Linked DNA regions of Homo sapiens: region 1 is linked to region 2. The links come from fine-mapping of genetic effects on gene expression. Tissue or cell type: whole blood. Region 2 holds a variant in brackets; the other region holds the start of a gene. All regions are shown on one strand. Distances are from middle to middle.

The links. PIP is the estimated chance that this variant, and not a neighbour inherited with it, causes the effect.
Region 1: TICAM2 starts here. The variant in region 2 is fine-mapped to the expression of TICAM2 in whole blood (TOPMed, PIP above 0.99).

The regions. Positions count from the first base shown.
Region 1 is chr5:115,600,446-115,604,553 of GRCh38, forward strand. It overlaps TICAM2 (TIR domain containing adaptor molecule 2), which reads right to left and starts at 2,034. Exons shown (of 2, transcript NM_021649.7): 1 at 1,652-2,034. All of the region lies in intron 3 of TMED7-TICAM2 (TMED7-TICAM2 readthrough), which reads right to left. It overlaps TICAM2-AS1 (TICAM2 antisense RNA 1), which reads left to right and starts at 1,710. Exons shown (of 3, transcript NR_109875.1): 1 at 1,710-2,015; 2 at 2,601-2,711. RefSeq lists enhancers at 1,356-1,435, 1,384-1,906 and a silencer at 1,526-2,025.
Region 2 is chr5:115,578,835-115,583,096 of GRCh38, forward strand. It overlaps TMED7-TICAM2 (TMED7-TICAM2 readthrough), which reads right to left. Exons shown (of 4, transcript NM_001164469.4): 4 at 1-2,481. The coding sequence ends at 2,481. TICAM2 (TIR domain containing adaptor molecule 2) reads right to left here. Exons shown (of 2, transcript NM_021649.7): 2 at 1-2,481. The coding sequence starts at 2,422. The coding sequence ends at 1,715. Among named protein-coding and RNA genes, the nearest start is that of TICAM2-AS1, 21 kb to the right of the region's middle. The variant T/C (reference allele first, on the strand shown) is at 2,510.

The sequences.
Region 1 (4,108 bases), 22 kb after region 2:
GCTAGAAAAATATGGCCAAGAAATGAACTCTGTGGCATACTAAGATTTAGTGGTGGGGAAGCCTGGAGACACAATGAAGCAGAATGAAATGCAGAATATGGTGACCTGGAAGCCAAGTGAAGAAGAAAGAATATTAGTGAAGAACATTAGTGAAGAAAAAAGAATATTGAGGAGGGAGTGATCAAATGTTACTGAGGGGTCAGGAAAGATGAGAACTGTGCACAGACACTGGATTTCACAAGACAGTCATTGGCAACATCAGGACCATGCAGGGGGTAATGGGGACAAAAAGCCTCAGATGAGAGGGGGTAGGAAGAAACAGGGAAAATGAAAATGGAGACTTAGATTAAATCTTTCAAAGAGGATTTTTGTTTGTTATAAAAAGAAGCAAAGTAGGGGAGCGGGACCTAGAATGGGATGTGTGGTCTAGGGGGGATTAAAGACAGAAGATTTAACAGCAGATATTTGTTAAATGAATACATTTTAAGAATAGCATAAGGAACAAATGACTCAACACAGATGCCCATGATTCAACAGTGTAAACATGGTTTATACTTCAAGTTCCATACGGTAAGGCGTACATGTCACATTTACTTTGCTTCAAATGTAGGTGTCAATATTCTATACCTGCTTATCTATTTTCTGATTTGAATGAGATATAAAGTGGAGTTGCTTAACTCCATTTATAACCATCCTACTACTTCAAAATATTAAAATGTAAGGATTGATGGGCTGATAGGTGCAGCAAACCACCATGGCACACGTTTATCTATGTAACAAACCTGCAAGTCCTGCACATGTATCCCAGAACATAAAATTAAATTAAACAATAAAAAAATAGAAATACAGATTCTGGAAATCAAGCTTACCAAATTAAACCTTCAGAGGTGGGGGGATGCATTTTAAACAAAAGTCCCAAATGCGTCTTACCATCAGGCTTGTTTGAAAAACACTAATCTAAGGAATACTAAACACTTGGAGAAGGACAAGTTCTTCTCCTGTGTAGACGTGCAATGTGGGTTCAGGGGATGACACTTCAACTCTATATAATGGTGTATTTTTACCTCCAGATCATATAGCCTTTCCCACCCTTGCTTTTCAAAATTAAAAGGATAAATTAAAAAATAATAATAAATATGAGAATATTTTAAAATACTTTCTTTAAGAAGTTTACTACCGTGGAAAGCTGGAGAGGTCCTAATACACTGAAAACTAGCTCACAGCTGCCAGTCAAATTATTTTTATCCAAATTAGCTTTGCACAAAAAGCCAAGTAGGAAAACCCATGCCAAAACCTCCAGCACTGGCTCTGTGTGCCTGGCAGGGGCTCATGCAGAGCCTTTAGAGCATTTAAGACTCTGGGCTATTTGCTTATGGTTCTGAGGTGTCTTTTCGAAAATGGGTTTTCTAGTCAAAATGAAACAAAAAGGCAGACAGCTGTGTGGATTTTCCCTTCAGAGTAAGCCAAGTGACGGAAAGGCCTGCCCGCCCCGCTGGGGACAACAGCGCCAGCACCCGCGCCGTCGGGTCGGGTAGGCTGGGGAGGTAGCGCAGGCGGCCTGGCCCCCAGACCACCCCGCGCCCCTGGCGGCCTGGCCCCAGCCCACCCCGCGCCCCCGGCGGCGGCCCCCGCCCTAGCGCCCGGTACTTGCCTGCAGGCGAGCGCCACCACAGTCAGCCCGCGGCTTTTCTGTCTTCCTTTCTGGCCCAGCGAGAGCGCCCAGGGGGTGGGCGTCTTGCCCCGGGCGTCGAGAGTTTGGGGCCGTCCCGTACGCGGCGCGCCGCAACCCAGTCCCCGCGACCACAGCAGCCTGCTCCCCACCGCGCTTGCAGAGCCCGGACGCGCGTGAGTCGGGGGCCCGCAGAGGCCTCACCCTTGGAGGTCGCCGCTTGTCAGGCCTGACTGCTGTTGGCGCCCACCCCGCCGCCCCCGAGGGGCCGCTCGAGGCCGGACTGCTGCTTTGCCGTGGCAGGCCCCACCCGGGACGTGGCGCTGCGGGCCGGGGCGGTCCAGCTGTGAGTCAGGGGTTAATGTGGCGGGATAACTCTCTGCAGAGGGAAGGAGCTCGCAAAGAAGGGTGGAGGAGGGGAAACCGCAATGGGGAACTGTCACCGAGGCTAGTGGACTCTCCCTGCGCTTTTTTTTTTTTTTTTTTTTTTGGCATGTACCCCAAAAGCCAGAGGTCGAGGCCCAGAAAAATCTGGAAAGGAATTCCACCGTGTTTGCTCCTTACAGACCAGACAAACCGTAGATCTTTCAGAGGTACAGCGACTCTCCTGGTTCCCTAAGATAGTCTCGACTTTTCCTTTCCCTTTGCGGCCCTCTCACTTGACTACTGCAGCCAACCATACCCCTGATTAGGGGGTGCAGCACATCAGCCTCTGCCCCCAAAAACTACCCTGCGAAAGATCCTTTTTCTCAGGTTCGTTCTCCACAACCGAACAGATTGGAACTCCACTGAATAAGAGAGAACAAAAAAGCAATTAGTTAAATGAAGCGTAAAGAAGCCTTATAAAGCCCCATTGCTGCCTCAGGCACCCAATCTAGTCATAACCTAAGAGGTCCAGTTCAGAAATCTCCCCTCCCCTTTTAATTCTCAGGCAATCCCTACTCCCTGCCAAAGGAGAACCCAGTTACTGAACATCGGATGAGACCATGGATAGTAAATTGGGAGTGAAGGTCCATACCTGGGTCTCAGAAGCACAGTACAGGTAAAGCTAAGAGTTATTTCCTCCTTCTCTTTCCCCATCCAACAACAGGATGCCTTACTGAAGGTAGGCACTTCAGGTAGTAATTACTTAGTGAAATGCCGCCAATGTAGTCAGAAATACCGTATTATGTACCGTGTCAACACAATTCATTATTCACGGAGTTGATTCTCCAACCACTGCACCTCCCAACAATTCTACCTGAACTCTTTGGGTAAGCAGTGGCCTCCTAAATCCAACTGATACTTTTGTTGCCCTCATTTTTCCTGGGAGTCTCTTTGGCGATTGACAAAGTCGACCATTGTTTCCCAACACTCTGTTTCCTTGATGTTGACAACCCCACTTTGCCTTTATGCTCATCCTGCTTGTTAAAATTCTTTCAGGCCTGTTGGGAGGCCGAGGCGGGTGAATCACGAGGTCAGGAGATCGAGACCATCCTGGCTAACACGGTGAAACCCCGTCTCTACTAAAAAATACAAAAAATTAGCCGGGAGTGGTGGCAGCTGCCTGTAGTCCCAGCTACTTGGGAGGGTGAGGCAGGAGAATGGCTTGAACCCGGGAGGCGGAGCTTGCAGTGAGCCGAGATCGCGCCACTGCACTCCAGCCTGGGCCACAGAGTGAGACTCCGTCTCAAAAAAAAAAAAAAAAAAAAAAAATTCTTCTTTCAGTTTCCTCTGCCTGTTCCTCTTTCTCTGGCAACCCTTCAAAATCAGAGCTTTTCACATTTTCCCACTGAAATACCACCAATGACAGATTCCATAAACACGTACTTCCCTATTCATCACTTAGGTTGCATACATAAAAGAGCCTGAAGTCACTAGTGTCATGGGCAAATTTACTTGAACTGTTCCATCTTCTTGTAAATTGCTCCAAATTTTGCATTGTTCTTCATAATACAGTCACATGTACTAAAAAAAATCTTAAATTGGTTACAAGTTTAATTGCTTAACATTTTCTCTCCAAATGTTCAAGAAAATGCATCAATCACTTACGCCACATATGTTTAGAATATATTCTATGTGCTAGACATTAGGGATATTGTGCGAACAGGAGACACAGTCCTAGTTCTCATGGAGATTTTATAGTCTAATCTGGGAGACAGACAGATATGTAAAGAAGTGAGACAATTTCAGATCCGTGCATTGCTAATGGGGACAGCGAATCTTCCTAGTGGGCAATTTCTAGCTACATACCTGGTTATTCACATTCAAGAAAGGAGGGGACGACATGACAAACTGATAAATATACTGACTTACAGGCAGTGTCTAATGGATTGTCCAGCTTTTAGGTTCTTGGAAAGAACAAAATGGAAAATTTGTAAAAGATCTGTCCGTGAGACTTACAGATAACCCTCTTGGAGTGGTGAGGGCATGTGAAGATATTCATATCCCCCATAAGTG
Region 2 (4,262 bases):
CAGAACGTTAAGGCTAAGAAAATGTCACTATGCAATGAAAACCATCTCCTCCTCTAATAAGTACTAACAGAATAGGAGGCTTGACTTACTTGCATGCTCCTCATAGAACGTTTTGGTTCATGGCTATGAAGAGGTAACTGCAAAAAGATGTGTGCAGATCCCGGTACTGGTAGGGGATATACAAGTGGGGAATAAGAAAAAAGAAATTAAGCAAAATGTCTTTACTCAAGGATCTCTATAAAAATTTATTTTTAAGAAAGCCTGAGTAAGCATGTATATTTTTTTCCTGTGACTTTAAGTGTAATGACAGCATTAAAAATAAATTATGCTGTCAATATACAAAAAATATCTTTTCATTATAAGCATATATAAAGCCTTCTGCAACTATTACATATCACTTTATCGAATCCAAACTTTTTTGCTTGTTCCCTTTTGTGGTCCCTAGTTTTTCACATCCTCATAGAGGACAAAAGCCTTTAGAGATCCATCAATTCAACCCTTTCATTTCACAGATAAAGGAGGGTAAATAGTTTGCCCACAGTTACATTCATCCTCAGTGGCAGAAATTGGACTAGAACCAAGTCTCATGATCCCGAAGAGGGCTTTTCTCATTACATGACATGACCCATTCTCCACCCCATCCCTGATCTCAAGTGGACGATGCTCCCTCAATCTCAGATGGGCAGAAGGGCTGTGGAGGAAAGAAACAATCCTGTTTGGGGCCTCTCTGGCTTGTTAGGAGCATGGGGCTCTAGAATAGGAGGTAATAAAATACATCTCCTTCTATCCAAAGTCTTTATAAATAACCTATCACACACACACATGCACACAGTCAGGCTACTTTGAAGACCTAAATGAGAAATACTTCCTGAGAAGAGAATTGTGTGTGACGGAAACTTTTAAAGCTTCCATAAGAGAGGTTTTTGATTTAAAAAGTGAATATCTGGCCACTCACACAGTTATACGCCTTTTAGAAGCTCTGCAAATAAAGCCATAGTTACAAATGATGACTAATATGAAGAGATTTAAGCCCCAGGGGACGTCTGAACACCACTCCACGAAGTCCCTAACTACCACACTATCAAATGGGCTGTGAATCGGTGGTGGGAAATGCCTCCAAATATGCAGATTTCAGCAGAAAATACATTTGACTGGGTTCTTTTAAAAAGTTCCACCATTCTCACATCTATTTCTGATTTTATATGCATCAACGCTTAACATGCTAAATGTTCTATTCTGGCAATTCATATTTCTGGGTGATAGTACCCGAATGCTTATTGCAACATCCATGAGAGGTGCCTCAGGAGGAAGTGTGATCAGATCTCCTGGGGCCATTTTTTTTCTGTGTCCTTTGAGATCAAAATTCAGAGAATAAAAGTGTTGTCACATTTTTAAAAATGTCTGTCATACAAGTTTTTGTTCAAGGTTCAATACAAGGAATATGGATTGAGAATTCCTTTTTCATATCCATGAACTAGGAAAATTGTGAAAGAAAAGTCCTTGAAACTCTGACAATGTCAAGTTTACTGAAACATCAAAAAGTACCACAATTTTATAGGCTGTCCTGCAGAAATTTATCTTTCTTGTGCTCCATAGGTTTCTTTAAGGTGAAGACTCTCTTTTATTTAAACATTTCCTAGAAACTGCTTTCTCAAGTGAAGATTAATCATTTGGTTTACAAAACAAGAGCCAGCCACATGTTATATGTTTCATCTCAGGCAATAAATTGTCTTTGTACCATATTTCTTGTCTCTTTCCATATAGTTTGTTGTGTCTTATACACAGACTCCTGAAAAATTCTTTCTACTTGTGTAGGAAATCCACGACTTTCTTCCTCTAAGGCATTGATGGTTTGGAGGGCAAAGGGAGTCCTTTCTCGGGGAAGGGGATTGTTCAGGGGCCGCATGGGTATAACAGAGTTGTATTTATGCTGCCTGTTAACGGAGTTCATTAGGGACGTATAGAACTGGAAATTACACCAAGTATCTCTTAAAAAGTTTTCAGTCAGTAATAAGATTGTCCATGCAGACCCATTTACAGCATCATCTAAATTCTGTAAATGCTGTCTGCCACATGGCATCTCAGCAAAGATTATTCCGGGTTTGATACCAAAGTCATCTTGTAGCAGATTCTGGACTCTGAGGGCTTCATCTGTGTCATCTTCTGCATGCAATATCACAAATTTGAGGAACACCTCTTCTTCAGCTTCTTCTTCAAACATCTCTTCCACGCTCTGAGCTCCCTCCTGCTTTCCTGTTGGCCCCTCTGTTGTATTGCTGTGCTCAGCAACATTACACAAGGATAGATCTTCAGACTTCTTGGAATCTGACTCATGATATCCTGGACTTGTATCCACACTGTGCCTTTTACCCCAAGAGAGAGAAAGAGGGCAGGAATTTATTTTAGACTTCCCGATACCCATTATAAATATCCAAGGCAGAAGAGGAAAACTTTATGTATTTCTCAGCATTTCTTTTCAATCTAAAAGAAGTAACAAAACAGAAGAATA[T/C]TATAAATTTAATCAAAACATTAAAAATGGAAACTTTCATTCAAACTGAAAAGCTCAAAAAGATTATAATAGACAGATCCAAATACATAAACGACAAACAGATAATTGGGAAGCTAAACTACTAATCTTTTGTGAGCTTTACAAGGGCTATCACAGGCAGCGAAGGGAACATTAAATAAAGGGTCCAGTTTAATATAATAGGAGACATTCGGAAAATGTAAATGGTGTTATATTAGCACTACAAACCTCCAGATTGAAATAAATTACGTTGGTATTTTTGTGATAGGTACCATACCGCTTTATCTTTTCATGCAGTTTAAATCTAATTTCTCCATTATCAAATTACCATGTAGACTAGAAACAGGAAAATATAAAGAAACTGAATATTCAATTAAGCATAAATATATTTCTGTATCAAGCACAAACAAAATAGAACACAAATATCCTAACAATGACTGGCAGCATCTCTACTGACAGCATAAACAGAAGATCTGAAATGTCAAGTGAAATGATGTCCAGGATTTACTGGTTCGGAGCTTTTTTTTGTTTGTCTGGAGTCAGGCATTGTGGTGATGGTGAATCTAATGGAGAATAAATTATAATAAGAGTGTGTGAAAAGTAAGAAATATCTTTTTCCAACGAATCCTGTAACTACTGAAGAAAATATATTTATTCACCTAAGGAAAAATTAACATCTCAGTTTGGAAATGAACTCTAGAAACAAAGACTTGAGACTTTCTCCAGTGAAATCAACAAAGAATGATTATAGTCTAGATTCATTCTTGTTTTTGTTGTTATTTATTTATTCATTTATTTATTTATTTATTTTTTGAGACAAGGTCTGGCTCTGTTGCCCAGGATGGAGTGCAGTGGTGTGATCTCAACTCACTGCAATCTCTGCCTCTCAGGCTCAAGCCATACTCCCACCTCAGCTTCTGGAGTAGCTGGGACTACAGGTACATGCCACACACCTGGCTAATTTTTTTTTTTTTTGGTTTTTTTTTTTTTTTGGTAGAGATGGGGTTTCATATGTTGCCCAGGCTGGTCTCGAACTCCTGGGCTCAAGCAATCCTCCCGCCTCAGCCTCTCAAAGCTCTGGGATTACAGGTATGAGCTACCACGTCTGGCCTAGACTCATTCTTTTATTTAAAAAAATTCTAAATTCAGAGTGGAAGAACTAGATCAACTGTGAAAGAAAAGTATACCATGTGAATCTAATTTAAATAAGTCTTCAGAAAACATTGGCAATATTCCTAATAAAATCCCCCAGACAGGCAGTTTCAAGGGGAATTCTTTTATTAAAAGACAGAACATTTAGAATATATAAATACAGGTTTCATACTTTCAAATGTGAGCCACAGACTATATTCCAGAGCATTTCTACTTGTTCTTTATGGGCAAAGGCCATACCTCAAGAAGAAATTATAACATTCATAACAACATAAGTAACATGGCTACATATGCCTACATAATTCAGGTTTAGAAGAAACTGTTCAACAAAAGTGGTGAAAACTGTCATGGGAACAAAAACCAAGGAAAAAAACAGAGAATTTCATTCAATGTATGTGAGTAAAAATGTTTGCAGCTGCCTCTGACTAGTGAGGAAACTGCTGACCACTCCGTCATTCACTCTGTCTGTACTTTAGGTTCTCGCTCCACGGTATATTGTGCTAGTTACCAAGAGGTATTCTAAGGCATAATAACTCTAAAATGTGACATATATCCATCCAAAATAATAAAACCAAATTAATTT